Homo sapiens: one gene and its partners. The protein of the gene in region 1 interacts with the protein of each later gene in a biochemical or structural test. Each region holds a gene or a part of one and is shown in the gene's direction. Other genes may lie near its edges.

Region 1 (7,371 bases):
CAGAGAAATAGAAATAGTTTTGGAAAAGAAAATATGAATGCTTTCCCTAAGTCCTAGACCAAGCTGAGGGGAAGCACCTTTCTGTCTGAGAACAGGAAAAGGCCAGTATTGCCAGGAGCCAGTGAGATGCCAGATGCCGGTGGGAGAGTCAAGGCCCTCCCAAGAACAAACATGCTTTGCATAGCTCAGCAGGGATCAATCAGGTGCTCTCTGAAATCCACCTCAGTGATGGCTACTGGGTGGAGCCGACGATGAAAGTGCCCTTGCCAGGTTTCTTTTCATGTAGGTTGTCTCCCGCCTCTGAGGGCATGCAGTTGAGTCTCCCAACAGTGGAGGGCAGGAGGGAAATGAACGTGGACAGAAAGCTCCTGTTCAGCAGCACTTTCACAGACACTCATCCCGCCTACACTCCCCGTGAGCAGGTGGCTTGGTCAGCGTTCTGTTTCTAGGAGATGGGACACTGGCTGCTGGGGGGTAGCTGGTGAGGTGTAAGTGATCGTGGCTAGGCCAGTTAGGAGACTCTGACAGTCCAGGAAGAGATGATAGGGGCATGCAGGAAGGTGTTGAAGGTGAAGACAAAAAAGACAGGCAGGTACCCAGATTTAGAGAACTGACCAGGCTGACAGTTATAAGAAGCTGGTGTCAGGGATGATTCCCTGGTTTCTGGGCTGAGGGACGAGGTGGGCAGACCTGTCCTGAGATGGGAGCTAAAGAAGGGGGCCCCTGCTGTAGCTGAGGAGGCTGCCAGGTAGGCCCATCACAGACAGGTGACAGCCTGGCCACGGCCCATTATCACACCTCAGACCAGCTCCATGCTTGATGGGCAGCTCATCTCAAGTTGAAAAGCCACAGAAGCGTATCTCTGGGAAACACTGAGGGTCTGCCTGCCTCTGTAGACCTGGGAGGTCAGCAGATACCACTGAGGCCAAAAAATATGGGTGAGGTTTTAGAGTACATGAAACGGGGATTCATACTGGGGAGGTGCACGAACCGACTCAAGGGCGTCACGTGGACCTATTCCAGGGCTCCTCTTCTGAGCATTTCCAGGCTCTGAGTGGCATTCTAGATTGGGGAGGGCGTGGCTGGGTTAACTGAGTTCCAAGACACAAGGGCCTTAGAGTGACACAAGAAAGTGTCCAGTGTCCCGACCTGTGGGACAGACTGCAGCCCAGAGAGATGCCTCTCTGTCCCGTGTGGCCAGGCCTTCAGTGTCCTGGGGACAGAGCGTGCCCGCCTCCCCTCCACGCCTCAGATGCTACAGCTGCTGCCAGTAGAGCTAAACAGACATAGAGGCATCTCGCCCTCTCTGCCTAGACCAGTTTTGTGTCCCAGGCCATGACCACACGGAGGGCCTGGACATTTGCCTGGGCCTGGCTCCTCACCAGACGGGGCCTAGACAAGCCGCCTCCTTCACGCCATCGTTTTCCCACACAGGTTTATCTGAGGACCGGGGTGAGTCTGGCAGGGTGGAGGCAGAAGAGTTCTGGGACAGTGAGAGAACGTGAGGAGCTGATCTGTATCTTCCCCTTCTCTGTGCCTAGGAGAAAAGCAGCCTCCCAGTCAGACAAGCCAGCCGAGAAGAAGGAAGATGAAAGCCAAATGGTGAGCAAGCAGCCCGCCCCACCCTCAGGCTCCCCACTGAGATGAGCGCATCGCCAGGGAGGCTCTCTGGTCTCAGGCGAGGCCTTTGGGACATGCGTGGGATGGGCGCTTCATCAGGTGATTCACAGGAGGGGCGGAGGGTCTCTGCGGTGCTTGTCCCTGCGCCACCCTGGCCCCAGCAGCAGGCCTGCCCTCACTGAGCACCCCCTACCAGACACTGCTCCACCCTTGGAGCTGCAGCCTGAGGCGCTGGCCGCTGCACCGCAGGGCTACCTCGCCTTCCCAGGAGCCCCGGGGAGCACAGACCAGCCAGGGTCTCGGCGGGACTGGGACTCCAGGAGTACACTGCAGAGGGGCACGTCTGCCAGAAGCCCAGAGAGGTTTTTATTTTCAAATTATTTCTGTTTCTAAAGACTCCTCTTCCAGCAGGAGCTTCAGGTGAGCTGTGGCAAAGGAGCCCTGGACCCCTGGCTCTTGTCCTTACCAGGCAGCCCAGAGCCAGCCTGGCTGCCAGAGCTCCCAACATCTGCTTCCAGTTAGGGCGGCTAATTCTCTTTTCCTCCATGTTAAGCTTTTCCTATAAAAAGACTCCTACTGACAGGGCTAAGTTTAGCCTTAACTACAAATGCCTTGAAGGTTCCACCTCAGTGCAGAATCAGAGAGGAAATAAAACTGCCAGGGACCAGAGCAGGCTTCCTGCCCTGTCCTCCCATCAGTCAGGGTCATGCTGGTGTTACCCTGAGGCTATAGCCCTCCCAGCTGATCCACGCCTCTCAGCCCCGTCCTGGGCACATATGGGTCCCTTTGCCCCACCAGCCAACTCCCATTCAGCCTGCACTTCCCTGCATCACCCTTACACCTTAAAAAACAGCCTCCCGGCCGGCTCAACACTTCACACTTGTAGTCCCAGCACTTTGGGAGGCCGAGGCAGACGGATCACCTGAGGTCAGGAGTTTGAGACCAGCCTGGCCAACATAGTGAAACGTCATCTCTACTAAAAATACAAAATTAGCGGGGCATGGTGGCGCATGCCTGTAATCCCAGCTACTCGGGAGGCTGAGGCAGGAGAATTGCTTGAACCTGGGAGGCGGAGGTTGTAGTGAGCAGAGATCGCACCATTGCACTCCAGCCTGGGCAACAAGAACGAGACTCCGTCTCAAAAACAAAACAAACAACAACAACAAAAAAACAGCCTCCCGACCCCCAGGCCTCACAAAGCTCCTCACTACTTGATCCCAGCCCCGGTCTTCTCCCGAGGCCCTCTGCACAGGCACGACTGCTTGTGGAGACTCGTTGTCTCCTGCCAGATCTTAGGCCCTTGGAGGGCGAGGCCTGGGCTTCTCACACGTCCACCATTCCCATACCTTGCACATGCTGTGGAGTTTAGCCAACTGACTTGCCATGAATTTCTGAAATTGCAGGCCACGGGATAATCACAGACATCAAAATACTGTGGCCTCGCTCCAGCCACAGCCCTGGGGATCTGAAGACATCGCTGGCCTTTCTTAGTCAGGTGCCAGTATGTTGCAGTCCCAGCCCCTGAAAACTAAAACTCTCGCTCCTGGAGCTCTAAGAAGAATGGATTTCAAAGCCCAGGGGCTTCTGGAAGAGGAACATTCTTGAAACCTTCAACCCCAAGGATAGCACTCTCCTCCTCAGACCCCCATCTTTTCTGTCTTGTTTTTCACAGGCCCCTGGCTACAGCTGGTTCTTGTTTGCCATGGTCCCTTCTCATACCCAGGACTAGCGTCTAAAGAGAGCAGGGCCTTCAGAAGATCCACACACCACACAAGTGCAGTGGGAGGGAGAGAGGCTGATGGCCGGCACTCGTTTTCTTGTTCATGCTTCCTGGTATTTCCCCAATTCTCTGCAGTGAACATGCACTAAGTTTATCATTAACAGAGAAGAAAGAAGGCTTATTTGAAAGACGAAAAGAGCCCCAAATGTGGAGTCCGGTGACTTGGGCAGGCCCTCTGCCATGGCAGAGCTGGCCCTGGGCCAATGGAGTTACTGCTCCGAGGACCAGTTCCACCACCTGAAAACCTGCACCCAGGCATGGCCGCCTCACAGACTGTGCGACTGCCAGAGGTGGGGTGCAAGTCTCTGTGCCCAGGGCCTGGGAGTGCTGCGGCCACCTCTTTCCCAGCCTAGAGTCAAAGCATAACTTCCCTTTTAAGCAGGGAGGGTTTTAAAAAAATAACATACAAGAAAAGATGATAATTTTTTAGTGACTCTGATGTCACCCTGTATCGCTTTCATCGTGGCCCCCACATGTGTGTGTTGATTGACATAATCTGTTATTCAGCTGTCTTTAAAATGAGGAGGCCTGAGAACCTCATCCCAGCACCTGCAGGCTGGCACCTGCTTTTGCCTCTCGACCAGAGCCTCCCGGGACTTACTCGTTCACCACACAGATACGCAGGGCGTTCCTGATTCTCGTGTGGGGATGTAGTGAGCAGAGGAGACAAAGCAAAGACCTCTGCCCACGGTGACAAGGGAGAGGTTCTTTGCTTCAGATCAGAATGACACATCAGGTTGGGTGGCCGCCTGTCAACAGCTCAAATGCTGTGCATTCTGCTTCATCAAGTGGAAGGATTACTCTTATTACTTAATCAGTGGCATGTTCCTGATGCTGAAAAACCATCCTGACGCACATGCCATGCATGATGAGTGTTAGGTGTCCCCACTGCTGGATGAACACGTCCACTGTTCGAGCACTGCCACAGACCTATTACACGGGCAGGTGTGTGTGCTGCACAGGGGGAGCAGGCCAGTCCACGGGGTGCTCATGAGAAGTCAGTGAGATGACATACGGGAGGCATCCGGCCCAAGGGGGGCTCAGGGCTTGCGGGTGTTGAGGGCCAGAAGGAAGTTCTATATCACCCTGCTGAGAGCCTGTAGCTCCCTGTAGCCTTCCCCTTCCCCAGCTTTGTCCACTGGCTCGATTCTCTCCCCACTGAGATTTTGCGTTTTCACTTTTAAATATTTAATGTTTTGCTAATTATAAAAGTCATATGTGTTCATTGGGAACATTTGGAAAACTGAGGTTTTATGAAGTGTCCAATGATGTCCTGCCCTGGCCCCAGGTGGCCTTCCTAAACAGACTCCCTTCTTCTCCATTTTAGGAAGATCCTAGTACCTCCCCCTCTCCGGGGACCCGAGCAGCCAGCCAGCCACCTAACTCCTCAGGTGAGAGGGCGCCCCCCGCTGACCCCAGTGAGGCATGAGGTCTCAGAGTGGGAGGGGGGACCCTTCGGACAGGACCCTCTGATCCAGCCTCTTTAGTATGCCTGAGCAGAGGGCCAGGCCACAGGGAAGCCCATTTCTTATGGGTCCCCCAGAGCCTCCCCCAGGAGCCCATGTGGGAGCACAGGAAGTGCTAGAGCAGAGCCACTGTGATGGGTCCCCAGGGTGACCTGCGTGTCACCTTCCCACCAGGACCCTGAGTCCCGCACGAGAGAAGGCACTTGCCTGACGGCACATATTCAGGGTGGGAGTTTGTGTCCAGGGCTCCTGAGGCAGGCTGGGGCCAGTGCTCTTAAGAGGTATCAGTGTCAGGACTCATGTCTCCCAGTGAAACGCCAGCTGATGACCGACATTACAGAGATGGCAGTAGATCTCGCTCCACCCAAAACGCAGCCCCTTCCCTGGCTCAGGTTTCTCTCTGTCTAAGCTGTGGCAGATGGGAGGTAGTTAGGAGAGTATGATGAGGCTTCGCAGGGGAGGAAGACCCCAGGGTTGGTTGTTCATTCGACAAACATCTTTGCAGCACCTGCTCTGTGCCAGGCCTGTGCTCATGAGCACAGCGAGGAGAGACAGGGGCATCAGGCTGCCCTAGCTGGGCAGAGGAGGCTCTTGCCAGCTGTTCGCGTGTGTCTCTGGGGCATGCTCAGGTTGGGTGTCGCCTCCCTGTGAAACTGCACGCCATGTCCTCTCCTCCTAAGATTTTTGCCTGGTGTCTTGATTTGCCAGGATGCATAGGTTCCTGGCTGATGAACGTGATCAATACCCCTGCCCTGTTTGCTTCTTCCAACAGCCCAGTGAGTGGGCTACGTGGTTCCCATCTGTGTGCAAAGTGGTTTGCTCAAGGCCACACACCTGGGACATGTCTGTAGCCCCAGGTCTAGTGCCTGCAGGCCCAGCGCCTGTCCCAGAAGGTGGCTTTGAGGAAAACTGCCTCAATCCCACCGTTGGTCCGCAGGGTGCCAAGGCTTAGCTCTGGGCCAGGCAGCTGCCCCACTACCCCCTAGAGATTTTGTCTTCTGCCTCTGCTTGTCCTGCACAGTCAACGAATTCAAGTTAATGCAACAAATCTTTTGGAGTAGAACAAAATATAATCCAATACCACTTAAAAAAGACAAGCCAGCCAGAATGGGACAGAGCCAGGCGCAGCATGGGAGGCAGACTAAGGAGCCCCTCAGTAGCAGGTGCCGGGCCGAGGGGCCTGGCCGCCACACCACACGTGGGAGCAAGGCTGTGCTGGGATGTCCGGGGAGGTCGTGCTTGCTCGCCCTGTGGCTCTAGTCACTGGGTCCCTTACCAGCAGGCTCACATTCCAGAGAGACCTGGCACAGTGAAGGGCTCAGAACCAGATCACAGGTCAGGGTCAACCTGACCTAGGCCATGGGGGACTGAGAACAAGGTGCCAGGTTTTGGCTTAACTCAATCAGACCTTCCTGCCACGGGGCTCTGCACCCTTGGCATGGGTGAGGGCTTCCTGTTGGGGTGTTTAGGGGATTGGGGTGGCTACTGAGTCCCTTCACCTGTGAGGTTCTTCATCCATGAAATGAACTGACAGAGGCTGGCCGGAAGCCCTGGGAGCGGAGCAACTCGGTGGAGAAGCCTGTGTCCTCGATTCTGTCCAGGTGAGCTGCCCCAGGAAGGCCTGAGCAGCGAGGCTGGTGGGGCAGAGGCGGGCGCTGGCGCCGATTCACATGTCTGTTTCATTCCATTGCCGTAGAACCCCGTCTGTGGCAAAGAGCCCCGAAGCTAAGAGCCCCCTTCAGTCGCAGCCTCACTCTAGGTACCGAACAACCCTCCTGCTCACATGTCCCCCAGGGTTTGGGGCTCCTCTGTCCCCCGTCCCGTGACTAACACCCTTGCACGCTGTCTCACGTCCTGGCATTTAACAACTTGCTCTGCGAAGGTGGTCTGTTCTTTCAGACCCAGGACCTCGGGGTCCTGTCAGTCAGCTGCTCCGTCTTTTCCCTCTGAGAGAGAGACCAAGGGCAAGGAGGGCAGTGACCTGTCCACAGAGGTAGTGCAGGGGGGGGCCAACATGGAGTCCCAGCTCTGGACTCACTACGTGTGACAGTGGGCAAGTTAGGGGACCTCTCCAAGCCTCTGTTTTCCCCCCACAAAGTGAGGTCTGTTAACCCCTGCTGCACAGGGTGGTGGTGGGGACAGCTGTGAGCAACAGCTGGACATGGGGTGTGGTCACTAGCCAGGGCTGCACCCTACAGTTCAACCAGTCCTAGCACTGGCGCTGAGCCCTACCCCTTTCCTCCAGCCCAGAGTCCTTCCTCTGCGGCCGGCACACAGAATCAGTTTCCCCACAGACATACTGACCATATTTCCCAAGCCAAAAGCTGGCATGACAACATGATAGAATATTTGGAACTGAGATTGCCCAAAAAGGCAGAGGCAGCCAGCCACATAGTATCTGGAGGTACATGTGGCCTGAATTGGAAGGCCTCTAGAACCTGCGTCAAGAATGTCTCCATCGCCACCACAAATTGAAGGGAAACCACCCTTATCACAGAGCAGGAG
Region 2 (7,745 bases), on another chromosome or scaffold:
CTTGTCCTATTCATTATCTACCCCCATTCCTAGCAATAAAATAAACATCTACAACTTTTTGCCCAAGTGGGGTTTCTGTAATTTAAATAGTTTTTGAAATGTTCAGAAACATTGAGTACACCAGAACACACAGAGGGGAACAATAGACAATGGTACCTACTTGAGGGTAGAGGGTGGGAGGAGGGTGAGGTTCAAAAAGGTACCAGTTGTGTACTATGCTCACTACCTGGCTGATGAAATCATTTGTAAACCAAACCCCAGCAACATGCAATTTAATCATGTAACAAACCTGCAGATGTACTCCCAAACCTATAATAAAAGTCAAGGGAAAAAGTTCTCCAATATCGACAGAAAGAAAAATCTTCTGCTTGTACTTACTAAGCCTCTTCCTTTGCTAATTTCCTTGTAACATCTGAAACAGAGATAGATATCTTTGGAGGCATTTGGAAAACTCTTATTACTCCCTCTCTGTGAGATTTGTCCTACCTATAAGTTTGGGCTTTAGTCTATGTGTTGTCCTTTGTGTCTCTCAACTGGCACCAGCTTCAGCTAATTGAATCAGAAGTTTAAGCTTATCCAAGCTGGGCTATTTAAAGTCTTTTTGTTAGAGGGGTTGAAATCCCAAACTGGGTATTTTGCTTGAACTAGGGTGATGTCAATTAACGAGCTGAGACTGCCTTTATTGGTTGCCCATGTGTGCAGGAAAACAGAGTCTTCAAAGAGAAAGAACTAAAGCTGATGGAGGCCAAGCAGCAAGATGAGAGACCACATAACCCCAGTGAAGGAGTAGATTCCTTGTTCCAGATGTTGGCAAGTGCCTGGTCTAGTCGCAGATGCATCTGGCCCTTGAGTTTTGCAACAAGCCTCTGTATCCTTAAAATAAAATGCCATCTTTTTAAAAGTAAACTAGCTCGAGGGTTACTATTACTTGTGATATGGTTTGTATATTTGTCCCCACCCAAATCTCATGTTGAATTGTAATCCGTAATGCTGGAGGTAGGGCCCAATGGGAGGTGTTTGGATCATGAGTGGCTTGGGCCATCCCTTTGGCAATAAATGAGCATTCTCTCTGAGTTCACAGGGGAGCTGGTCATTTAAAATTGTGTGGCACACCTCATCCTCCCCCACCAACACATTCTGTCTCTCTTGCTCCTGCTTTTACCATGTGAAGTGCTTTCTCCCACTTTGCCTTCTGCCATGATTGTAAGCTTCCTGAGGCCTCCCCAGAAGCCAATGCAGAAGGTATGCTTCCTGTACAGCCTGTAGAACTGTGAGCTAATTAAACCTCTTTTCTTTATAAATTACCCAGTCTCAGGTATTTCTTTATAGTAGTGCAAGAACGGCCTAATATAACTTGCAATCAAGAGTTTTAACTAAGACACTTATTCATCTTCCAAGACTAAGCCAAGGTTACTCTTTTCTAAAGATTTTACAAATCCCAATACCACCTTCTCCCTGACTCTCACGTGTGCTTCCCTCTACCTGTAACATTTCATTACTCTTACACACCTGCTACTCCCATACTAATCTGTAAACTGCTTAAGAACAAAGGGAATGTCTTATGTATTTTTACATCTCTCCAGTGATGAAGGGTACATAAAAGTTTAACACATTTCCCTCATCGGATATTGTAATTTGATAGCATAGAAACTGAATTTAACCTGAATAAATATTTTGTTTGGCCTATACAGAGAACTTCAGTCTCTCTCTCTCTCTCTCCTCTGTCTCTGTCTCTGTCTGTCTCTCTCTCTCTGTGTGTGCCTGCACACATGTGTAAAATCTAGTATTTTCATTTACTTCTCTAAAGATAAAGATCTTAAGACCATTCCTTAGTATTATCCAGTATAGTATATTGATTTCCTCTCTACTTGATTGAAACAGCAGAGTTGGGCATTTATTTGGCTGATGTGTCCATAAGTTTTGTGGAAAAGTCAAGTCCAACATTGACTAAAGCACTCTGGTAGAAACAAAGGGAGATAAAATTATAAAGTAATATCTTTCCCCACAACTGCACCAAAAATGCACTTTCCAAAGTCACCAATGATCTCCTTTTTGTTAAATCCGAAGGGCATTTGACCCTTTTCTACAATTTGACATTGTTAACTAATTTCTTCTTCAATTTCCTTTCTTGCTTTTAGGGATTTGACTCCTAATTTTTTTCTTACCCTTAATCTAGCCCTTATCTCTTTTATGTGTTTCTCTTGCTCAGCCTTGCTCACTTGGTGTCTTTGATATTCTTCTCTTTTATTTTACTGTCTCCGAGGCTCATCTCACTTCTTGGCCTTTAATTATTTATTTATGTAGGATGTGAACTCCTAAATCAGCATTCAAGATGTATATTTGGATACTCATTTCAATGTCTCAGTCTCAAACTCAATATATTAAAAGTTGTATCCTTTATGTCCACCACCAGCCCCAAAGAATGCACAACTGAACAAAACCCTGACCATCATCCTATATTTTCTCTCTTTCTGAGCTATCCATAGAGGTGATCAAGATAGAAATGTGTGCCATCTTCTATTCATTCCACTGTCATCAACTACATGTACTCATCAAACCATGCCAGTTCTACCTCCTTAATAACTGTAGCTTAACACCTGAATAACTGAACAAAAACTTACAATTTAACTCTCTTAACACTTATCTACCTCAATTTTATTTTTATAATTTATACATAATCTATAATTATTTTTATATAATTGGCACAGTGATAATTCCAGATAAAACTCACTGAATTTCTATTTCCATCCTTGCCAATGATACACACACACAATGTAATGCTGAGAGGGTTGGGAAGGAAGAATGGGAGAAAGGCAGAAGTTGACAGTTAAAAAAAAAAAGTTTCCAGATGGTTTTCTTAGTGTCATCTCTGCAACCTCATCAAATAAGGGTCCAAAATTTATGTTACAACATTTGTTTGATGCCTTATTTAAATTGCTTTACTGGACATTTTCCATCTGTTAAGCTCTCTGAAAGAAACAAAATTGCCTTGTCATAGCTAGACCTCATGATCCTATACACTTACAACGGGCAGACTTTGCAGGGGCCCACACCTTTCAAGGTGGTTTGGGAAAATGACACAGAAAAGTTTTACATCAGCTGAAAAGAAAAATGCATAACTCATTTTGGTAATTTCAGTTTTAATTCTTAATAGGATAAAGGAAACATGCACATTATAAATCAATGCTCTGTGTTAACAAATAATCAAGTAAGCAGAGTTGCAAGTATTGGCTAAAATGAATTTTGGATATTTTTAGCTACCAAATTTCTCGAGGCAAGGCAGACATACATCTGGACCTGAATATCTGCATTATTAGGGAATTTTTGTTTGTTTGTTTTATATTGTTTTGTTATTTTTAAAAGTAGGTGCCAAATTAGGTCACCTGCTGTCTGGGCAATGTTATTTTTTGCCATAACCACAAATTGAAGAAAATTGACTGCTCTTTTTCCTTAGTCAACATGCTGTGCTTCCAGCCCCAAACATCTTTGAGAAGTTGTTTAGATTCATGAGCAATGCCTCTGTCCCCAACAGGCTAAGACATTAGGCAGGTCCCTGCACCTCTGGAGTCCTCAGTTCCCTGCAAAGTGAGGAAGCTAGACTAAGTAATCGTTAGGCTCCCTTCCAGACCGACCAATCTGATGGTATTAGATGCAATTGCTCCTGAATTAGGGCATGAAATGAATTCAGCTTTGGTGCACCAATGTGATGACTCTGCTTCATCAAAGCCTGAGCACGCGATAGGCCTAGCACCATCTCACACAGAGACAAAGGGCAACCCTCTGCTTCCAAAGGAATGACACAACCTGTTTCTGAAGTGATTCACATCATCTTTACTTTTGAACAACCCAATGCTCAGAAAACAATCTAAGAATCTTCGCTGACTTTAGGGATGTAAGATACGGTTTCTTGACAGTATTTGGGATTGTGGAAAAAAGCAATTGAGGAAAGGGCATCTCCACAACGCAATATTGAATTTAGTGCCCAAGGTCCATCACAGGAATCCCTAACGATCCCTACAATCTCTCTCTCTCTCTTTTTTTTCTCTCTTTACCCTGAAAATAAACTGAGAAGTTAGTATTGGGATAACTATTCCCCTTGACCCAAATAAAAAGTCCTGGGCAAACACAGGTACAAATTGCCAAATGGAAAAAGTTCTTCTCCATCTTCAGCTAGAGGGAGGCTGGGGATCCCAGCTCTTTAGAAGCCGGCCCGTGGACGCCCAGAGAATCCCTTCGGAGACCAGGTCAGGGTCACTGAGCTTGCCCAGCAGGGCGCCGCCTCGGACGCCGCCCCGCCTCTCACCTTGCCAGCGCCGCGCTCGGGCCGCGAAGGTGCGTGCGGCGCTCGGTGATTGGCGGCGGCCCGGAGCTGCCCGGCTGCCATTGGCTGCCCGGCCCCCTTTGTTCCCGGGTCCGGGCCGCAGGCCCGCTGCGGCGGACTGGGCGGCGGAAGTTCGACGGCGCCGGGCGAGTGGCTGTTGAGCGGCGCCGCGGGAGTTCCGCAGGTTTCCCGTGTTCGCAGCGGAGCCGGAGGCCAGCTGAACCCGGCCGTGGGATCCCGGATAGGAGGAGGAGGGGACCCATAGGACGCGTTAACATGGACCTGGAAAACAAAGTGAAGAAGGTAGGGGGGCGCTCGTGGCGGGCGGCGGCTGCTTCACCTGCGCGGGTCGCGCGGCGCGCGGCGGCCGGAGGTGCCGAGGTGGGTGGGGCTCGCGGGCCCCCCGGTGTGAGCCCGGCTCTGGGTCTGCGGTGCCCCGGGCCCAGGGACCTGGCCCCCTGGGTAGAGGAGGTGCTCGGCGGCCCCGCCAGCTCCCCACACTCGGGAGCGACAGAATTGGAAGCGCGAGCGAGGGCGGGCGCGGGACTCTTCTCTCCAGTCTCACGGAATCCCAGTGGTTGTAGGTGTTGGAAACTTTACTTAAGATGTTTCAGCTCTGCCTGTGCCTCCTCAAAAGGAAAGGACGAGCTTAGGGCGAGTGCGGGCGAGACCGTGACACTTCCTGGCTCAGGAAGTTGAATTTCATTAAGCCTTTGTGGTTTGGGGCTCTGCTGTGCTTTGACAGCTCTGATCTCCTCCCTTCCGGCTGGGCTGTCTGGGGCGCTCTAAAATGAGTGTTGATTTAATGCACTGCCTTCGCACCCGTGCTGGTGATAACTTCTAATGTGATTTTTTTTTCGGTCATTCATTACTTGTCTACCGACCGAGGCAGTGCCTCCCTCTTAGGGAATTATCTGTCAAAGAGCGCATTCTCCTTGTTTGGCAGGTAGTCCCAAAGGGCGGTTGTCACCAGCGTCTCAGCGCAGGGAGACATTTTCAGCTTGGCTGCTGCCTCGCAGGCACTGGAACCGACGGCCCTACCTGAGCCACTCCCGGGTTATGCGGAGCCTGGTGTCGCCTGGGAGAAAAGGGTGGGGACCAGACTATGACTCAGAAGGAATGCTGATGTCACATTCGAGTGAATTGCCCTGTGCGAAAGTTCTCCTCGTTCCAGGGGATTTGCTCATGTTTTACTTTGTGGTAAATTTAAGCTAGCTGTCCCTTATCAAATAGAGAAGTTTTGCAGAGAGAGGAAGGGAAAAATACAGAAAACAGTTTTTGTTTTTCTCATACTCATGGTTCCTAATATTTTATCTTCTAAACACAAAGTTTTTGACTTGAGCATTAATTCTATTTTATGCCCAGAACTGGATTTTTGAAAATGGATACAAAATATTGTGTTAGGACTGCAGAGTTTTCGGTTAGGAAGCTATTGACCAATAAAAACTCGAAATGAGAAAACAGTTTTTTTCATTCCTTGCGACTAAAATTCTCAGGCACTCAAAAAGGTATCCAAGAACAGAAAAACATAAATTGTTAATGGTAGCGTGATTGCATTCTATTCTCTTCCCATTTGGTTTCTTTCTTTTTTTCTTTTAAATAACTGTAATATTTTTGGTTAATCTTGCTTGTCATGGGGGAAAAGCGGGGAAAGCATTTTGCCCGCTTAGCTTTCTGTTGATGAATACTACTCTCATTTAGTTTTCAAGTAGGTAAGAGCTACTTAATTTAGTACTTGTCTAAAACTTGGGGGGTCTTGTCCTTGCTTTTAAGTATTTATTTGAAGACAACTTTGCAAAAGTAAACATATTTTGGGCTGCCGAGGATGAACAGGTGAAGCACAGGATTTTTAGGGTAATGACACTATTCTGTATGATACTATAAAATGGCTGATACATGTAATTATACATTAATCAAAATCCATAGAATGTAGAACACCAAGAGTAAACCCTAATGTAAACTATGTATGTTGGGGATAATGATGTGTCAATGTGTTTCATCACTTGTAACAAATGTACTGCACTGATACGGGTTGTTGGTAGTCCGGGAGGCTGCTGGAGACAGGAAGGCATGGGGGAGGTACATGGGAACTTCGAATTTTCTGCTCAATTTTGCTGTGAAGCTAAAAAATGCTTTAAAAATAAAGTCTGTTTAATAGGGGGAGAAAAATCAAAGACATTTTTGAAACTTTTTGAGACAAGGAGTAATTCTGAGGGAAGAAGTTCAAACTTAAAAATTGTATATGCTTGCAAAGGAAAAATCCAGACGTTGTTTATAAACAATTTCCTTAGAGTTTGAAAATGTGGATTATGATAAATAATGCCCTTGACATATGGTGTAATTTTCCTCGTTTATCCCCCACTTTACTTTTAAAAGTTATATTTTCAACCAAGAATCTTAACTTTCTCTAATCCTCCTCTTCTCCGCCTCTACCACCCCAGAAAGAATTCCATAAATTAAAGGTTTTAGAGAGAATCCCATGATATAACAAATCCCTGTTTCACTACGTTGTCTTCACTGATGATTCTTAGAATCCTCAACTGGTAAATTGGAAGCTATTAAAAAACCGCAGAGATGTCCCGTATGACTCCAATTTGTGAGTCCCTTAATAGGCTTGATAGTCTAACAAAAAGTTTCCCAGTACAAAATTTGGAAATCTCAGGAATGTATTTCACAATCTTAGCCATACTCTCAAAAAGAAATTTATGTTCCTTTTAGCAATTGTTTTCTAACACGTCCAAAGAAGGAAATATTACAAGACTATCTGATTTACCAGCAGAGTCCTCACCCTATTTTGGTACCTAGTTTTCAAGTCTCCTTTCTTTTTGACTCAGTTATTCAAGAAAATTTATAGTTTGAATGTACCTTGAGAAAAGGAAGATTAAAAGTTGGAACAAAGATACAACCATTTAAATACAACTAATATGACTTCTGTTTTAAGATGTATGACATTTTTTCCTTCTAAAACTTTTACATTGTTGATTTCATGAGGAATTTCTTCCAGACAGATGAAAAGCATCATTGTTCCACATTAACATTTCATGTAAAAAGAATTAAGGAGGACTGTCTTTATTAAACAGTGATTGAGATAGATGATACTATTATAAAATTCTTGGTTTGTAAAAGGAAAGCTCGTCCACATCAGTTGTACAAATTGGGATTAATTACCAGTTAAAACCCACCATCACAAAGACAAGGGGTTTTTATAATTAGATTTTGCTATATTTTGTTTTGTTTGAAGAAAGCGAGCTGTTGCTAGGATGTGGGAGCTAGTTTGGTTATACAAAGTTTTTGTTTTAATAATACTTTAGAACAGAATTGATTCTATGTCCTTGCCCTGTCTTCTGAGTTACACATCTAGACCTCTTTCTTATTTTTTAAGTCTCATCTTAATTGGCTTTGTGTCAGTATGGTCCATGTCTGC
Region 3 (8,222 bases), on another chromosome or scaffold:
ACTTATCACAAAAATCAATCTCTTTACCATGGCTCACCAAACCAGAAATGACCTACATACTGTTTGTTAGATAGTTATTATTTGGCCGTGTGCGGTGGCTCATGCTTGTAATCCCAGCACTTTGGGAGGCCGAGGAGGGTGGATCACCTGAGGTCAGGAGTTCAAGACCAGTCTGACCAACATGATGCAACCCCATCTCTACTAAAAATACAAAAATTAACCGGTTGTGGTGGCGCATGCCTGTAGTCCCAGCTACTTGGGAGGCTGAGGCAGGAAAATCAGTTGAACCTGGGAGGCAGAGGTTGCAGTGAACCAAGATTGCACGCACTACTGCACTCCGGCCTGGGCGACAGAGCGAGACTGCATCTCAAAAAAAAAAAAAGAAAAAAAAAGATAGTTATTATTATTATTATTAAGAGACAGGGTCTTGCTATGTTGCCCAGGCTGGAGTGCAGTGGCTATTCACAGGCACAATCATAATGTGCTGCAATCTTGAACTTCTGGGCTCAAGTGAGCCTCTCACCTCACCCTCCAAAGTAGCTGGGATTACAGATGCGTGACACTGCACCTGGCCCTGTTTGTTTTCTAATCTGATCTCATAAAACTGCCTCCTTTGTTCACATGGCTTATTTTGTGTTTCCGAAACGTACTAGATGGCTTTCTACTTCAAGATTTTGCACCTGCAGTTTCTCCTGCCTGAAGAGCTCTTTACATGGCTGATTCTTTCTCTCTTTTTTTGAGATGGGGTTTCACTCTGTCACACAGGCTGGAGTGCAGTGGTGCCATCATGGCTCACTGCAGATCGTGGGACTACAGGCTTGAGCCACCATGTCCGGCTTGATTCTTTCTCATTATTCAAGTTTCAGGTAAATGTTACATCCCCAGAGGGGATTTCCCCAACTATCTCTATATTCAGAGAAGGTTCCCATCCCTCACTTTGGCCTTTATCAGCCTAGATTCCTTATCTAAACCACATGACATAGAAGCTGTGTGGAGTGAATTGTCCTCTTAGTTCTTTCAAGGACTGAGTATGACTTGAACTGTTCTGGTTGCTGTTGGGGTCAGGTGAACTTCCTCTTCGCCCTCTGAAGTTTTGCTGAAAAATCAGGTCACAAAAGGCAGATTAATTGGCATATGCATCTGTTTGACAATAGTTTTATGTGACACGGAAGACCAACCCCCCAATGGGGTGCAGAAGCTTATGTACCATCTTGAGGCTACAGAAAAAATGGTGACTTGGATGCTGGCAAAACAGGTTATGGGAGGGTGAAGAAGAGGAATTCTATTGAGGGCAATAAATGATTACTAGGGAGAATTCAATGAACTTGAGGAACTTCCAATGGTCTGGGACAAAGTCTGTTGGGCCTGCAGACCAGACAGTGGTTTGTGACAAAAGTCTGTCCAGGTTTATTGACAGACTTTGGTCTTCTTTCTTGCAATGTGGGTTCAGTTAATTAAAACTCAGGAAAGAGATCAGAGATAATTGTTTTTCTTTGGTAGGTCAGGACTTTGGACAGATAAGGAAACTTCAGAGAATACTATGCTTTGGGAGAGACAGTGAAGAGGGGCAGGTGGGAGGAGGTTGAGAGAGACCTTGAGACTGCTTTTTCAGCTCAACATGTACAAAGCACCCTATTTTAGGGTATTGGTTTCTAAGCCCCAACATTGCATAGGAGAGAAGTTAACTCATTACATACAACAAATGCCTAGGGCACTAGGCTTTAATTCTCTGTGATCTAATCTATCGCATCAGTTGGTTTGTTTCCTTCATAACACTCAACTACACCCCATGATTGTCTGGATTATCATTTGTTTATTTCTTTATTGTCTGTTACCCTACTCTAGAATGTGAGCTCCATGAAGGCAAGGATCTTGTCTGTGTTGGTCAGCCTGAATGCCAAACACCTAGCACAATGCCTGTTACATCACAAATGTACAGTAAGAATTCATTGATAAATGAAAAGTATAAAACCACCTTTGCAAAATTTTAACTGAGGAACTTATGAAGTGAAAGAAAGCAGACCTAACTGACCCCATCTTGCTTCTAACCTTTAAGTTGTCCTCGTTCATTCCTGGGCATAGGCTGAACTAACTTTGGGAAAGAATTCAGTTCATGACTCTGAAACAAAATTGATAATAGCCCTTTGCCAAAAAGACCCCCTTCTTGCCTAGGGACCAGTCTGCCTTTGCAGGACTAACAAATTAGCTACAAGATTAGAAATTACAGTTTAAGGCCGGGAGTGGTGGCTCACACCTGTAATCCCAGAACTTTGGGAGACTGAGGTGGATGGATCACTTGAGGCCAGGAGTTTGAGACCAGCCTGGCCAACAATGTGAAACCTCATCTCTACTAAAAATACAAAAATTAGCTGGACGTGGTGGTGCATGCTTGTAATTTCAGCTACTAGGGAGGCTGAGGCACGAGAATCGCTTCAACTCGGGAGGTGGAGGTTGCAGTGAGCTGAGATTGCACCCCTGCACTCCAGCCTGGGCGGTAGACTAAGACTCCGTCTCAAAAAAAAAAAAAAAAAAAAAAATTACAGTTTAGGGGTCATGCAGCCTCTGACTCCAAGAGCCTGAACCTCCCAAATTGCTCCTGGAATAACATCACTATTTCAAAACCTAAGATCAGTATTTGAGATATTTTGCAGACCCTGCAGTTGATGGATCTGCTGACACCATCCAGACCGGTAATCTGGCTCAACCAGTTCTGCATTGCACCCAGGAGCAGAAAACAGCAAGAAAACCTCATTTTGACCCCCTATGTTTCCATCTCCAACCTGACCAATCAGCACTCCCCACTTCTCAAGACCCCACCAGCCAAATTATCTTTAAAAACTCCACAAGGTCAGGAGATGGAGACAATCCTGGCTAACACGGTGATAGTCCGTTTCTACTACAAAAATACAAAAAAAAAATTAGCCAGGCGTGGTGGCGGGCGCCTGCAGTACCAGCTACTCGGGAGGCTGAGGCAGGAGAATGGCGGGAACCCAGAAGGCGGAGCTTGCAATGAGCCGAGATCACGCCGCTGCACTCAAGCCTGGGAGACGGAGCGAGACTCCGTCTCAAAAAAACAAACAAACAAAAAACTCCGATCCCCAGGCTGGGCGCAGTGGTTCATGCCTGTAATCCCAGTACTTTGGGAGGCCGAGGAGGGTGGATCACCTGAGGTCAGGAGTTCAAGCCCAGCCTGACCAACGTGGCGAAAAAAATAAATAAAACGAAATGCTTGATTTTTCATCTGAATTTCATATGGCATACTTGACTCCAAACAACTTTAGAAAGCTACATCCACAGAAAACAAAATTGTAGGAAACTGAATAATAAGTTATTTTTATTTTGGCTAATAACATTATCCAAAAATAAAGACAATAGATTTGCAATGTTAATTACTTTCTTGAGGAAAGAAAAGTCACTTGTTTTAAAATATTTATTTATTTATTTATTTATTTATTTATTTGAGACGGAGTCTCGCTGTGTCACCACGCTGGAGTGCAGTGGCGCGATCTCAGCTCACTGCAACCTCTACCTCCCGGGTTCAAGCGATTCTCCTGCCTCAGCCTCCCGAGTAGCTGGGACTACAGGCACCCACCACCATGACCAGCTAATTTTTTATTTTTAGTAGAGACAGGGTTTCACCATGTTGACCAGGATGGTCTCGTTCTCTTGACCTCGTGATCCGCCGAAAAGTCACAGTTTTACAGGCAAATGAAGCATTGCTAAGAATTTTAAAGACTCTCCGAACGTTGATATTTTACTACAAAATGTTCTCTTTACAGTGTTAACATGCTTCAAAAAGCAAAGGAAAAAAAAACAGTATGGTGGCTTCTCAAAAAATTAAACACAGAATTACCACATGATCCAGCAATTCTTCTGGATATATACCCAAAAGAATTGAAAGTAGGGACTCAGATATTTGTACACCCATGTTCATTGCAGCATTATTCACCATAGCCTAAAGGTACAAACAACCCAAATGTCCACAGAAAGATGGGATAAACCAAAGATGTTATATACGTACAATTGAGTATTATTCAGCCTTCAAAAGGAAGGATATTCTAACGCATGCTACAACATGGGTGAGCCTTGAAGACATTATGCTAGGTGAAAGAAGCCACTCACAAAAGGACAATATTGTATGATCCCACTTATATGAGGTATCCAGAGTAATCATAGAGACAGAAAGTAGAATGATGGTTACCAGGGGCTGGAGAATGAGGAGTTAGTGTTTAATGGGTACAGTTTCAGTTTGGGAAGATGAAAAAGTTCTGGAGCTGGATGGTGGTGATGGTTGCAGAACAATGTCAATGTACTTAATGCCACTGAACTGTACACTTAAAAAGGATTAAAATGGTAAATTTCATGTGATATATATTTAACCACAAGTTTTTAAAAAGCAAAGGGAAGGAGAAACATATACAGCATGGGATGAGATTTGTGAAATATTTATTTTTGTTGTGCATGCACAGTCATAGACTCGCCGCCTTCTTCAGAATCCTCTAGGTAGATTCCAGAAACGTGAGGCGCAGCAATTCCAGCAACATAGCCAAGCTGTGTAACTTCGTGGTCTTTAAACAAACAACGGGAATACTGCGGGGATTCAGAAACTGAGTCGGAGGAGGAGTTCTGACAGCCCTGCCCAGTTCTTGCTTCTGTCATTTCTTGCTCTCAAATTCTCAAAGATGTCCTGAGAGACTTTCCTCAGAAAAAAATGGGACAGATAGAGGCGAACCCCAGCGAGTATTGTGTGGCATAATAAGGGAAACTGCCTCGGGGTAGCAAAGAGGACAGCATCACACGCAGACAGGAATCGACTTGGACTTCTCTGAATGGAATTTTGACTTTTTTCTAGGTTGGAGGGTGGTGTCGGGAGTGGGGGAACAGCAAGAGTGGAGGAACTTGTCCGCAGCCGGGGCTGCACGTAGGACTGCGTGAGGCCGAGGCCCGACGAGCCGTGTCGGCGCGCTGCGGCGGGGGCGGGCCCCCGTGCCTCAGTTTCCCCGGTGGCCGTTCTGGGAGCGACGCCCCTCTGACGTCGCGAGGCGAGCAGGGCCGGGCCGGCCGCCAGGGGGCGCGAGCGCGGGGCGGGCGCCGGAGAGGTGGGCGCGCGGGCAGCGGAGCTTGGCGCCCCCGGGGCCGCGCGGACCGCGCCGGCAGAGGCGGAAGCCTGAGCGGGAGGCGGGGCGGCGCGCTGACTCACACGGGATCGACCCGCCCGCCGCTTCCAGGGGCGGAGGTGACAGCGGGCTGGGGACTGGCGGCTGCAACTGCCTGCCGCGCCGAGGGACCGCCGGGCGGCGGAAAGCAGGTCAGAGGCCGGGCCAGGCCGGAGCCGGGCGGGGGCCGGGCGGGGAGCGGGGGTCGCGGTCCGGGGCCGCGGGCGGAGGGGACCCGCACCCCGAGAGACGCGCCGCGCCGCGCCGCGCGGCTAGGCCTGTATCGGCCCTTTCCCAGCGGCGGCGCTGTGCTGCGCTCTGTGGGCCAGGAGCCCGCGAGGGACAGTGGGGCGCAGCGGGCCCCCTCGCACTCCTGTAGTCCCCGGGAGTTGGAGGGGTGGTCAGAGCAATGCGAACGTGGGCTTTTCAAGCGGTGTCAAGCCCAGGGCTCTTTCTCTGCACCGCCCTGCCACTCCGGCAATGAGGCGGAATTTTGAGAGCTGGAAAAAGAATTCTGCGTTAGTCCACCCCGCTGATTTTACAGATGTTCGGAGCCTTACGGCATAGGAGGCCGTGATTCTGTGTCAGGGAGACAGGGACAGATGGCTTCCGAAGCAAGGGTTAGACCTGTTCAGCTGGAGATGCAGCTTTGGTCATGGTGGAGTTTTGCAGAAACCCGCGGACACCCGCGTTCCTGCTGCAGGCACAGATGTCCACCGGGCATCTGTGTCTCAAAGGGTGGTGATGCTGTCACTTTAGTAAAGGAATATTGAGGTTACCAAACAGGCCGGGGCCTGATGCAGATGAGGAGTATAGACTTAAATTTTAAGTGCAAAAACAACTTTAAATGCAGTCTCATTATTACTGCCTGTCTCATTTGTACTGTAATGAAGGGTGAATATTTTTGGCACTCACTTATTCTGGAATATGGGTAACTTGCCTTTAGGTCTGTTTTATAGTAATTCTTTTACACAAACATGAAGATCTTGTATTAAAACACTTTCATAACTAATGATGCTGTAGTATGTGGCAGGCGAGTGGTAACGCTAATATTTAGGGTTTGAGCATAGTCTAGCTCTGCTTGTTTACATAGCTGAGTTAAACGGATGAGCAGGACTGATTAATCTGTAGTAGTTTTTGCAAGACTGAAGTACCTGACAGCATTCGGGGATCATTTCTCAGTTGGTGTTCCGTTTATTACTTTCACAGCATGAATACCGACACGGTGATCAGCAAGTTAGTTTATCCTCTACCCATTTTTCTCTAAAATATTGAATTAAAGGATCTCTAAGGTCCTCTTCTGTCTCGAGTTCTCCGATTTTACATGTTAACTTGAAACACGTCACTCATTGTGATAATAAAAATGTTTTAAGAAGAAAAGATTTTTAGAATTCTGCATAATGGGGCATAGCGAATCTTCAAATTCATTATTCTCAGCTCTCTCAGTCACTTTATCAGGGTTGGGCTAAAATAAGTGAAAAGTGACTTTTCAAATTGCAGATACTTACGTGTTAAATTCACTTAAATTCAGAGGCTGCAATGGAGTGATTTCTGGAGGGTGGAGAGTAGCTCAAGTCTGGCTTGGGAACGGGGTTCGTGCAGTGCACTGATAACTTTTGCAATAAGCCAAGAACAGTCTGACTCAGAGAATGTGATAAATTGACTTTTATACAGTGTTCATATTGTGTATTTTTTGGCTGAGATAATAATAATCTTCATAAACGATCTGTTTAAATATGCACCAGTTATTTATTTGTCTTGCAGCCCCAAGGCAGGGCATTTCCCTCAACGTTCCATCAATCTCTTCCTCTTTTCTGGCTCCTGACTTCAGGTGATCCGCCTGCCTCAGCCTCCCAAAATGCTGGGATTACAGGCGTGAGCCACCGAGCCTGGCTTTTGGCTTATTTTCTAGGTTTAGTATTCTGTTGTTTCTAGAGTCAGCTAATGGATTACCTACAACATGGTATTATTACGAGATTATCTCCTGTGAAATTCTCGAATGTGCTTGATCATCTGCCAAAGCATCCTTAGAATTCATTCAGAATACTTCTGGAAAGTTTTGCAACACCAATTCAATTAATATGAAATAGTTTCTTATTATACACACTCTGGAAAACATCTGAATAAGCTAATTTTCAAGATTGGTTAACTTAGTCTTGTTGGTCAGGAGTTAATTATGAGTTATTAGTTTCTTGCCTGGAAAGGCAGAAAGTTCTTAAGTAGCAGCAGTAAAATGAGCTCTTTAATGAAAGAGCCGTTAAACCAAGATGTTAACTTTTAGTTGTGTTCTTTATCCTCCCTGCTATGAAAGGCAGCTGTGGGAGGTGAAATAGAGTAGCTAAAATGTATTATTTCATTTTTAGATTTCTAGATCTTTTCTTCTGACTGAAGGACGTGACCACCAAGAATTGAACCAGCACTTGAGGGCAGGCACATAGGGCATTGTGTGAGGAGTCTGAAGGCATGGCTTTTGGTCCTTACTTGTTTATTCACTGAACACATTCTCACTGAGCACCTGTGTGTGCTGAGAGGGTGGGCACCTGTGTGTGCCGGGAGGAGGAACACCTGTATGTGCTTGTGGGGGGCACCTGTGTGTGCCGGGGTCGTGGTAGCACTTGTGTATGCTGTGGGTGCTGGGAGGGGGAACCAGTTTGAACAAAACAGACTAAGCCCTCGTGGAACAGACACATTCTAATTGGGTGGAAACAGACAAATATGTGAATGAATAGGTCAAAGGATCATAATGCTGTGGAGAACTTTAGAGTCAGGAAAGGGTAAGAGTGTGTGTGTGTGTATGTATATGTGTGGTAGGGGATTTACTTTTTATATAGAGGGGTCAAATAAAGCCTCTACTGAGATAACTTTTTTTTTTTTGGAGACAGAGTCTTGCTCTGTCACCCAGGCTGGAGTGCAGTGGCGTGATCACAGCTCACTGTAGCCTCAACCTCCTGGGCTCAAGTGATCCTCCCATCTCAGCCTCCCGAGTAAGCTGGGACTGCAGGCTTATATCACCACGCTGGGCCAATGTTTGTATTTTTAGTAGACGCGGGGTTTCACTATGTCGCT
Region 4 (7,663 bases), on another chromosome or scaffold:
GATGAAAGAAGTTAAGAGATACGGAGAACAGAAGAGGAAACAGAAACATATGTATTCTGAACTCTAAGACAGTAAAGAGAACTGAGAAAAAGGAATTAATTGAAGAGATAGTAATTGAGAATTTTACAGAAGTGATGATAAATATAAATCTATTTTCCTAAGTAGAATAAAAGAAACCCAAATGTAGACACATCATAGTGAAACTGTAGAAGAGCAAACACAAAAAGGTTCCAAAGTAGCCAGAGGAAAAGAGACAAATCATCCATATGATACAACAGCAGTGACAAAAACCAAAATGAAATGGAATAACATCTTCAAAGTGTCCATTTTGCATTGTAGATCCAACCCATTGTCAGAGGATGAAAGTGATATAAATACATTTTCAGATAAACATAGTTTCTCACCAACAGACTGCTATTAAAGGAACTTCTAAAAGATGTACTTTAGAAAGAAAAATGATCATAGAATGATCTGAGATATGAAAAGGAATAGTAAGTAAATAAAATACAAACATGTAAGTACATATATATACACACATACATAAACATCTGTGTAAGAGTCTGGAGAGAGGTGTCCAGACTTAAAACATTCTAAGGTTTTTGGATTGTCTAGGGGTAGTGTTTAAGATATTTAACTTAAAACTTTATTGTATTAAATATGCAAGGCAAAAATTTAAGGGTAACACTAAGAAAAATTGGTAGCATAAATTTGAAAAAAAAAAAAGAATAAAACACACATGCCCGACATTTTTTTTAAAGGCAAGGAAGAAAAAAGCATAGAAAAAAAAAGAGACTAATAAAATTAGTTCAAACAAGTCCAAATGTATGTCAATAATTACAATGAATGTAAATGGAATAAACTTGCCAATTAAAGGTTATACTGCCATATTGGATAAAAAAACAAAATCCAGCTGCGTGAAGTTTATGAGACACAAAATAAAAAGGACAGAGAAAGGTTGAAAGAGAGGTGGGGAGCGAAAAGATATATAAGGTAAACACCAATAAAAAGAGAGCTGGGATGTTACCTTAATATTTGACAAAAATTTTAAGACAAAAAGCAGTATTGGTGATCAAGAGGGCAACTACTAAATAATAAAGAATAAATTCATCAGAAAGGAAAAATATAACAATTTAAATTTCCATTTTCCTAATAGCCTCAAAATATAAAAAGCAAAAATTCATAGAATTTCAGGGTAAAATGGCCAAATGCAGAATTATAAGTTCTCCTTGTTCTTTACTGTAAAAATCATACATAGTGAATACATTCAAAAGATATTTGTATTAGCTTGTGGGATTAAGGATTTTTCTCCATTTTCTAAACTTTATTGCTGTGATATTGATTTTATAATTCATATACTTTTTTCAGAAATGAACTATGCGGTGAAATTTTTAAATAACTGATGGTTAATTATGGTTTTACTAAATTTGGGGGTAATTACTGTGTATAGTTTTAGATCCTGCTCCCAATGATTATCAGGTTGTGTACATTTTAAAGATAATTTCTTGTTTGTGTTTTGCTAAAATTTCAAATGATTTTTACATGGACTCAAGTGGTTCAGACACCACTTGACTTACACATTAAAGAACGTGGCTTACTACACAGTTTCTGCTTTACTCAATAAGAATAAAATAATTCTGGAAAGAATGCATAATAATGCACTCCAAACTTAAATATGCTACTGATTGTTAATGGCTACATTATTCTGGCTATTTGTATCAACAACACAGCCACAACTTTTCTAAACTTCTGCCCAGATATTACAATTATCCTAGGGATTACTTACTCTCAGAAAAGTAGAGGAAGATACAAATTGGCAATTCTTTTTCTCACACTGATACTCCTTTGGACTTAAGTGAACCAATATTGTTATTACTAAAGCTCAGTATTCCACCTCTATTTATACTTTCTGAAACGTATAAGCAACACTTAGATGAAATAGGAAGGGATCACTGTACACAAATGGAAAATAAAGCAGCATGCAAGGAAGCTGGTTCTAAAGAAAACAAGCACAGGTGGCCGGGCATGGTGGCTCATGCCTGTAATCCCAGCACTTTGGGAGGCCGAGGCAGGCGAATAACGAGGTCAGGAGTTTGAGACCAGCCTGGCCAACATGGTGAAACCCCGTCTCTACAAAAAATACAAAAAATTAGCTGGGCGTAGTGGCGGGTGTCTGTAATCCCAGCTACTTTTGGGAGGCTGAGGCAGGAGAATCGCTTGAACCCAGGAAGCGGAGGTTGCAGTGAGCCGAGATCATGCCACTGCACTCCAGCCCTGGTGACGGAGTCTCATCTCAATAAACAAACAAACAAAAAAGCACAGGTTACTTTATTACAGTACTGAAAACCAAGACAGCACATGGACTCTCTTTGAATATATAACCTAAAAATTGAAACTGTAAAATTTAATCTATTATACAGAATTTTTTTCATAGTTGTTTAAATTTTACTGTTTGCAATTCTAGAAAAATAACATCATGTTGGAAAAGTAAGCAGTAATTTAAAATGAATTATATTTTGAAAAATATAGAAGAATGACAAGAATTCTAAATTTTTGTGAATATTTTACCCAAGAAATGTGTTTTAGAATCTTTTGAGATTTGAATTAGAAAATATTGTTGGTCAAATTCTTTCACTGTTTAAAGCCAACAATAAAAGAATAGGAAAAGAATGTAGTTATTTCCAACTCTGTGCTATAACAATAAGATAGTAACGTCTAGAAATTATATCTTAAAACCTTCAGAGTAAATTAATAAAAATTCAACATACTTCAAGTTATCACTGTATTTTTTCTATAATTACCTTTTCGTTTACTGTTTCAATTTATTGAATTATACATACAATGAAGAGCACAATAAATGTACATACAGCTTGATGAATTCTCACATAGTGAGCCTGTGTTACAAGTAATCTATTATTAACTTTTAAGATGATACAGTGCTATGATCGAAGGACTAAAATGATCAACATCACCATAAAAGGCAGAGTCATAAACAAGAACAATTAAGTGTAATTAAATCAGGTGGGAGGCACACTTACAAAAATGAAACAATTTTTGGTTCACATTTTACACCACACAGGTATTCTGTATCTTTAGAACATGAGAAAATACATATTCTCAGTCTGATAGGTCTCTGACTTGGGGGTTTCTTTTACTGTACTTTTTTTCTCTCTAGTAGCTGAACATTTTAAAGCAATCAGCAGAAAAAATATAAAACTTCAGAACCAATTAGACTTTTAAAAGCAACGTTCTTGCCCTTTCCAGAGATACATTCCTTAATCCTCCTACAAATCATGACCTCACACGATAACTTTAAGGGTGAACATCAACTTATCTACATTTTGGTGCTTTCTTTCCCTTAAGTGGCAGATGGTTTCTATTAACCTAAAATTGAAGTCATTGTTGGGGGACCCCTAATTCCATGTCTAGTCCTAGTGCCCAGAGGCTACCAAAGACGATACGAATAGCTTCTCAGGCACTCTACCCACCGTTTACCTTGTTAATACAAATCTTTCCCAGACCTGGGTCCCGAAATTATTTTACCCTGCAGAGCAGAAATGTTACGGTGTTCATTCAGTGAACTCTTCCCTAGTTTTTAATCTTTGTATTTTCTGCGTATACTTCAAGCCACCAGTAACTTTCCCAGTTACCAAGAAACAGTGTAACACAGGTCGCTATTTGTTTTGTTCGGAATTTACGAGCAATTTAACCACACGTGATTAGCAACATTAAGGGGGCTCCTCCAGGCAAAGAATCCACAGAATGAGAGGCCCTTGGTACCCAAATGAAGCAACAATGAAAGATCGGCGAAGCTCAGCAAGGTTCCTGAGCGCCACGGACGCCTGCTCTGATTTCAGGTTGCCGGCGCGCGCCCGCGGGTCTGCCTTTATGGACGAGGCGCAAGAGGGATCCAGGAAAGACGGTGCCCTTAGAGACTCGGAGATTAGCGTGGGCAACCCTGCCACCAGCTGCCCCTGCCACCAGCCGCCCCCACAACAAAAAGGAGGAAACGCTCCGCATCCCGTCACCAGGACAACTCTGTAACCCGACACCGAGGCTCAAGATTCCGCATCCCGGGCAGCGAACACAGGAGAAAAGCACATCGCGGCCCGGCCGCGGGGCTCCAAGGCGTCCGTGCCGCCGCTGTTCCTGGGGTGCCGAGAGCGACGCGGGGTCCACCCTCTCCGCCGGCCCGAGGTCCGAAGCTCGGCCCGCCACCGCTCCCGGCCGGCGCCTCCCGCACGTGGCGGCCGTGATTGTCCCGGGGCGGTATCCCTCCGCGCCCCCGCCTCAGTCTCCCCCCGCCCTTCCCGGGACCCTCCGTGCCCGGGCGCCGCGGAAGGATCGCACGCACGCGCGCGCGCACGCCCAGCCGTGTCCGCGGAAAACGGAGGGCGCTGCGGTAAGGAGCAGCCGCCACAGGCACAGCCGCTTCGCAGCCTCCCGCCGCTGGTTTGTCAGCCCCGCGGCTGCGGGCGGCCGGGCGGCCGAGCGCGCTCTGAGGTTCGTCCCTCATCGCTGAACCCGCGTCCTCCCGCCGCAGCTCCTCGGGGAGGGGGGCGGTCGGTGCCTGCGCAGAGCCGCCTCCTCCCCGCCCCCGCCCCGCCTCCCCCCGCGCCGCCGCCGCCCGCTACCGCCGCCGCCGCCGCTGCGCCTGCTGCTCCTCGCCGTCCGCGCTGCAGTGCGAAGGGCTCGAAGATGGCCGGTTGGCAGAGCTACGTGGATAACCTGATGTGCGATGGCTGCTGCCAGGAGGCCGCCATTGTCGGCTACTGCGACGCCAAATACGTCTGGGCAGCCACGGCCGGGGGCGTCTTTCAGAGCATTACGGTGAGGACCAGTGGCGGCCGGTACCCTGGTCCCTGCACCGGAGCGGGGTGGCCGGCCGCGGGGGCACCGCAGCGCGGGGCTGGAACACTGAGGGCCGAGCCCGCAGGTGTGCTAGGCAGCGGGCGCCGAGGATGCGGCTGCCGGGCGGGCGGGGAGGCCGAGGCCCGGGGACGCCCCCTCACCCGGGGCTGCGCTGACAGGCTGGGGGCGGCGGCCGGACTCCTTGCTGGCCCTGGCCGGGCGCCCCCGGCGTTCCCAGCGTCGGTCCAGGTGCCCGGGTTGGGGGAGGGGGCACGCACCGGCCAGGGCAAGGGGAGGGGTTCCTTTTTTCCTCCTAGTGCGGTTCCCCTAGGTTCTCTTGAAGCCCTGAGGTTTGCTATGCACGTTCTGGGGTGGAAGCGGGGGTCGGGGATCCGGGCTGGGGCGCGCGGGCCCCGGGTGGAGGTCCCTAGGCTCTCTGGCCGGCTCTTGCTCCGCGGACAGCGCGCCTCCCGCGCCTCCGGCTGTGGGAGGCGGCGGCCCCGGCCCGGCCCCCGGGATTCTCGAAGCGACTTTGCGTAGGTTTACCGATGTCCAGGCCTCTGGGGCTTGCGAGAGATGTACGCCGACCGCGTAGGTGGATTCGTGAATCTCGACTTCAGCTCTAGCTCTATAGGTTGTTTTTTTTTTTTTTTTAAATTCTCCAAGATGGCGAACTGCCATTGATTTCTCTTCTCATATGGAGATTCATCGATATACGGTTATCCCCAGTTATGCAACATAGCTCAAAAAAGGGGTGCTTTTCGGGGGCTTTCAATTATCTGCGAAGACCAGGAGCACACTTCACTTCTCTAAGTCCCTCCCTCTTTAGTGGTGGCAGTAAAGGAACTAATGCAGTTTTATGCTTCACATTGCCTGATTTTCTTGAGACTTGATGGTTTTGAGTTGGTTGCAATATGTTTGGAGAATATTTGCCACAAAACCTCCAGCTTATTGTTTTGCCTGTTTCTGCCCAAGGCTGTTTCTAAAATTATGATAATTGTACTAAATACGAGACCATTCTCTTTATTTCTTAGCACCACGCTCCCTTTCCATTAAGCACCAAAATTCAGGTCCCCTATTAAGGGTGCTAATTATTCTTTTACCACTTAACATGGTTTAAAGTCTAACTTTAGAACTCAGTCCTTGATAGTAGTACTTTAAGGTCTCGTATACCCGCAGTGGACTACAATTCTTGTAGGGAATTGGCATCTGGTCATCAACTTTTTTCCTGCAGTCCTCTTGTCTTTGTGTGTGAGTTCCCGCTGTCTGACTAGGAAGATTGCGGGAGTGTGCTTGGAAATGGCTGGGGCCTGCTATGACTCTGCAGTTCTGATGGGGGCGACGCCTTCCTTCTTATTCATGGAATGTTAGAATGCACGTTTTCTCCTTTCCGGTTCTGGTGGCTACCTCAGTTTCTTTCCCAATCTCCCTCCATTTTTTCTGTTTTACTATTGCCTACCGCAGTGCTGTAGACAGAATCCACTTTGCGTTTGCCCAGAAAGAAAACTGATTACTGAGATGGGAGGGGAAGGGAAGTTGGAAAGAAACGGGAGTCGTGGCTAGAAAAATAGGAGGGAAATATGAATTTGGAAAAGCACTGATGTCCAGGGGTTGAAGTCCATCTCATCACGTATATTTCTAGTTACTCTAAGCAGAGAAGTGAACACATCAAAGAACAGGCTTTATTTTGGGAGACTTTGAAGCAACTTTAAATTTGATGAAACATGATTTACTGTAATGGGACTGAATATGATAGACCAGCTTTGTTCAGAGTTGATAGCTGAATTTTTACCATTACGTGAACACTTTCAGGCACCAGCTGACTTAATACAGTTTATAAATAACTCTTTAAGTTTGCACTTTGTCTAGTGTCAACTGTCAACTCTTTACAGTTTCTTTGTATAGACTGGTCTTGGTTAAGAGACGACATCATTAACTGAAGTCAAATCAACTCATGTAAAATATGTGATTATATAGGATTAAATAATTATTTAGAAAAGACTGAATCTTGGTTTTACATTAGTGAAATGTGGCTATCTGGCAGTGGTAGCATAAGCCTAGCTACAGCCCTTCCTGTTACATCAAGCCCTAAAAGGAGTTAACTACAACTTAATGTGTGTGTGTTTTTTTTTTTTCTTTTTGGTGGGGGGCAGCCAATAGAAATAGATATGATTGTAGGAAAAGACCGGGAAGGTTTCTTTACCAACGGTTTGACTCTTGGCGCGAAGAAATGCTCAGTGATCAGAGATAGTCTATACGTCGATGGTGACTGCACAATGGACATCCGGACAAAGAGTCAAGGTGGGGAGCCAACATACAATGTGGCTGTCGGCAGAGCTGGTAGAGGTGAGTAAGGCATTCTTTTGGTTAAAGTTGCATGCCACATTACAACTTATTAAGCAGTTTCTTTTAACATTTTGAATAAAAGTTAGTCCATAATGGCTATTAAGGTGGTTTTTGTGAACTGCCCAGCACTATGGAGAAGCACTGCTTTAGTTTTACCTACTCTACAGCATCTATGACCTGGCCTCTTAGATCCTGATTTTGTTTCTACGATAGAATATTCGTATGAACTCACTTTCAGCTTTATTAAACTTAAAAGTCTCTTAAACTGCTTGACATGTCAAATCATAATCCTGTGGTGTTTCAGATTGTTAAATTGTTCGAATCACTTGGTTATTTTAGTCCCTTTTGGTGTGTGTTTGACCTTTGGATCTCTTTTCTTTTTTTTCTTGCTTGTATTCTAACCATTTCACTACTCAGCATAAAGAAGGAAAAATTAACATCCGTTCATTTTTCAGTTAGGAACTTTGCT

Evidence for each region.
Region 2: the proteins of EVL (region 1) and TES form a complex in vitro, tested with the Homo sapiens proteins (one study listed by BioGRID).
Region 3: the proteins of EVL (region 1) and DNMBP form a complex in vitro, tested with the Homo sapiens proteins (one study listed by BioGRID).
Region 4: the proteins of EVL (region 1) and PFN2 form a complex in vitro, tested with the Homo sapiens proteins (one study listed by BioGRID).

What each region holds. Positions count from the first base shown.
Region 1 is NC_000014.9:100,131,178-100,138,548, forward strand, and holds part of EVL (ena/VASP-like protein), read left to right. Parts: exon of another isoform or gene 1-1,541; coding exon 1,542-1,602; intron 1,603-1,869; coding exon of another isoform or gene 1,870-1,982; intron 1,983-3,023; coding exon of another isoform or gene 3,024-3,111; exon of another isoform or gene 3,112-4,721; intron 4,722-4,727; coding exon 4,728-4,791; intron 4,792-6,400; coding exon 6,401-6,467; intron 6,468-6,562; coding exon 6,563-6,625; exon of another isoform or gene 6,626-7,371. UniProt on the Homo sapiens protein: Ena/VASP proteins are actin-associated proteins involved in a range of processes dependent on cytoskeleton remodeling and cell polarity such as axon guidance and lamellipodial and filopodial dynamics in migrating cells.
Region 2 is NC_000007.14:116,206,111-116,213,855, forward strand, and holds the start of TES (testin), read left to right. Parts: upstream 1-4,428; 5' UTR 4,429-4,597; coding exon 4,598-4,624; intron 4,625-7,745. UniProt on the Homo sapiens protein: Scaffold protein that may play a role in cell adhesion, cell spreading and in the reorganization of the actin cytoskeleton. Plays a role in the regulation of cell proliferation. May act as a tumor suppressor. Inhibits tumor cell growth.
Region 3 is NC_000010.11:100,006,924-100,015,145, reverse strand, and holds the start of DNMBP (dynamin-binding protein), read left to right. Parts: upstream 1-5,198; 5' UTR 5,199-5,308; intron 5,309-5,562; exon of another isoform or gene 5,563-8,222. UniProt on the Homo sapiens protein: Plays a critical role as a guanine nucleotide exchange factor (GEF) for CDC42 in several intracellular processes associated with the actin and microtubule cytoskeleton.
Region 4 is NC_000003.12:149,967,889-149,975,551, reverse strand, and holds the start of PFN2 (profilin-2), read left to right. Parts: upstream 1-4,656; 5' UTR 4,657-4,695; coding exon 4,696-4,827; intron 4,828-7,001; coding exon 7,002-7,194; intron 7,195-7,663. UniProt on the Homo sapiens protein: Binds to actin and affects the structure of the cytoskeleton. At high concentrations, profilin prevents the polymerization of actin, whereas it enhances it at low concentrations. By binding to PIP2, it inhibits the formation of IP3 and DG.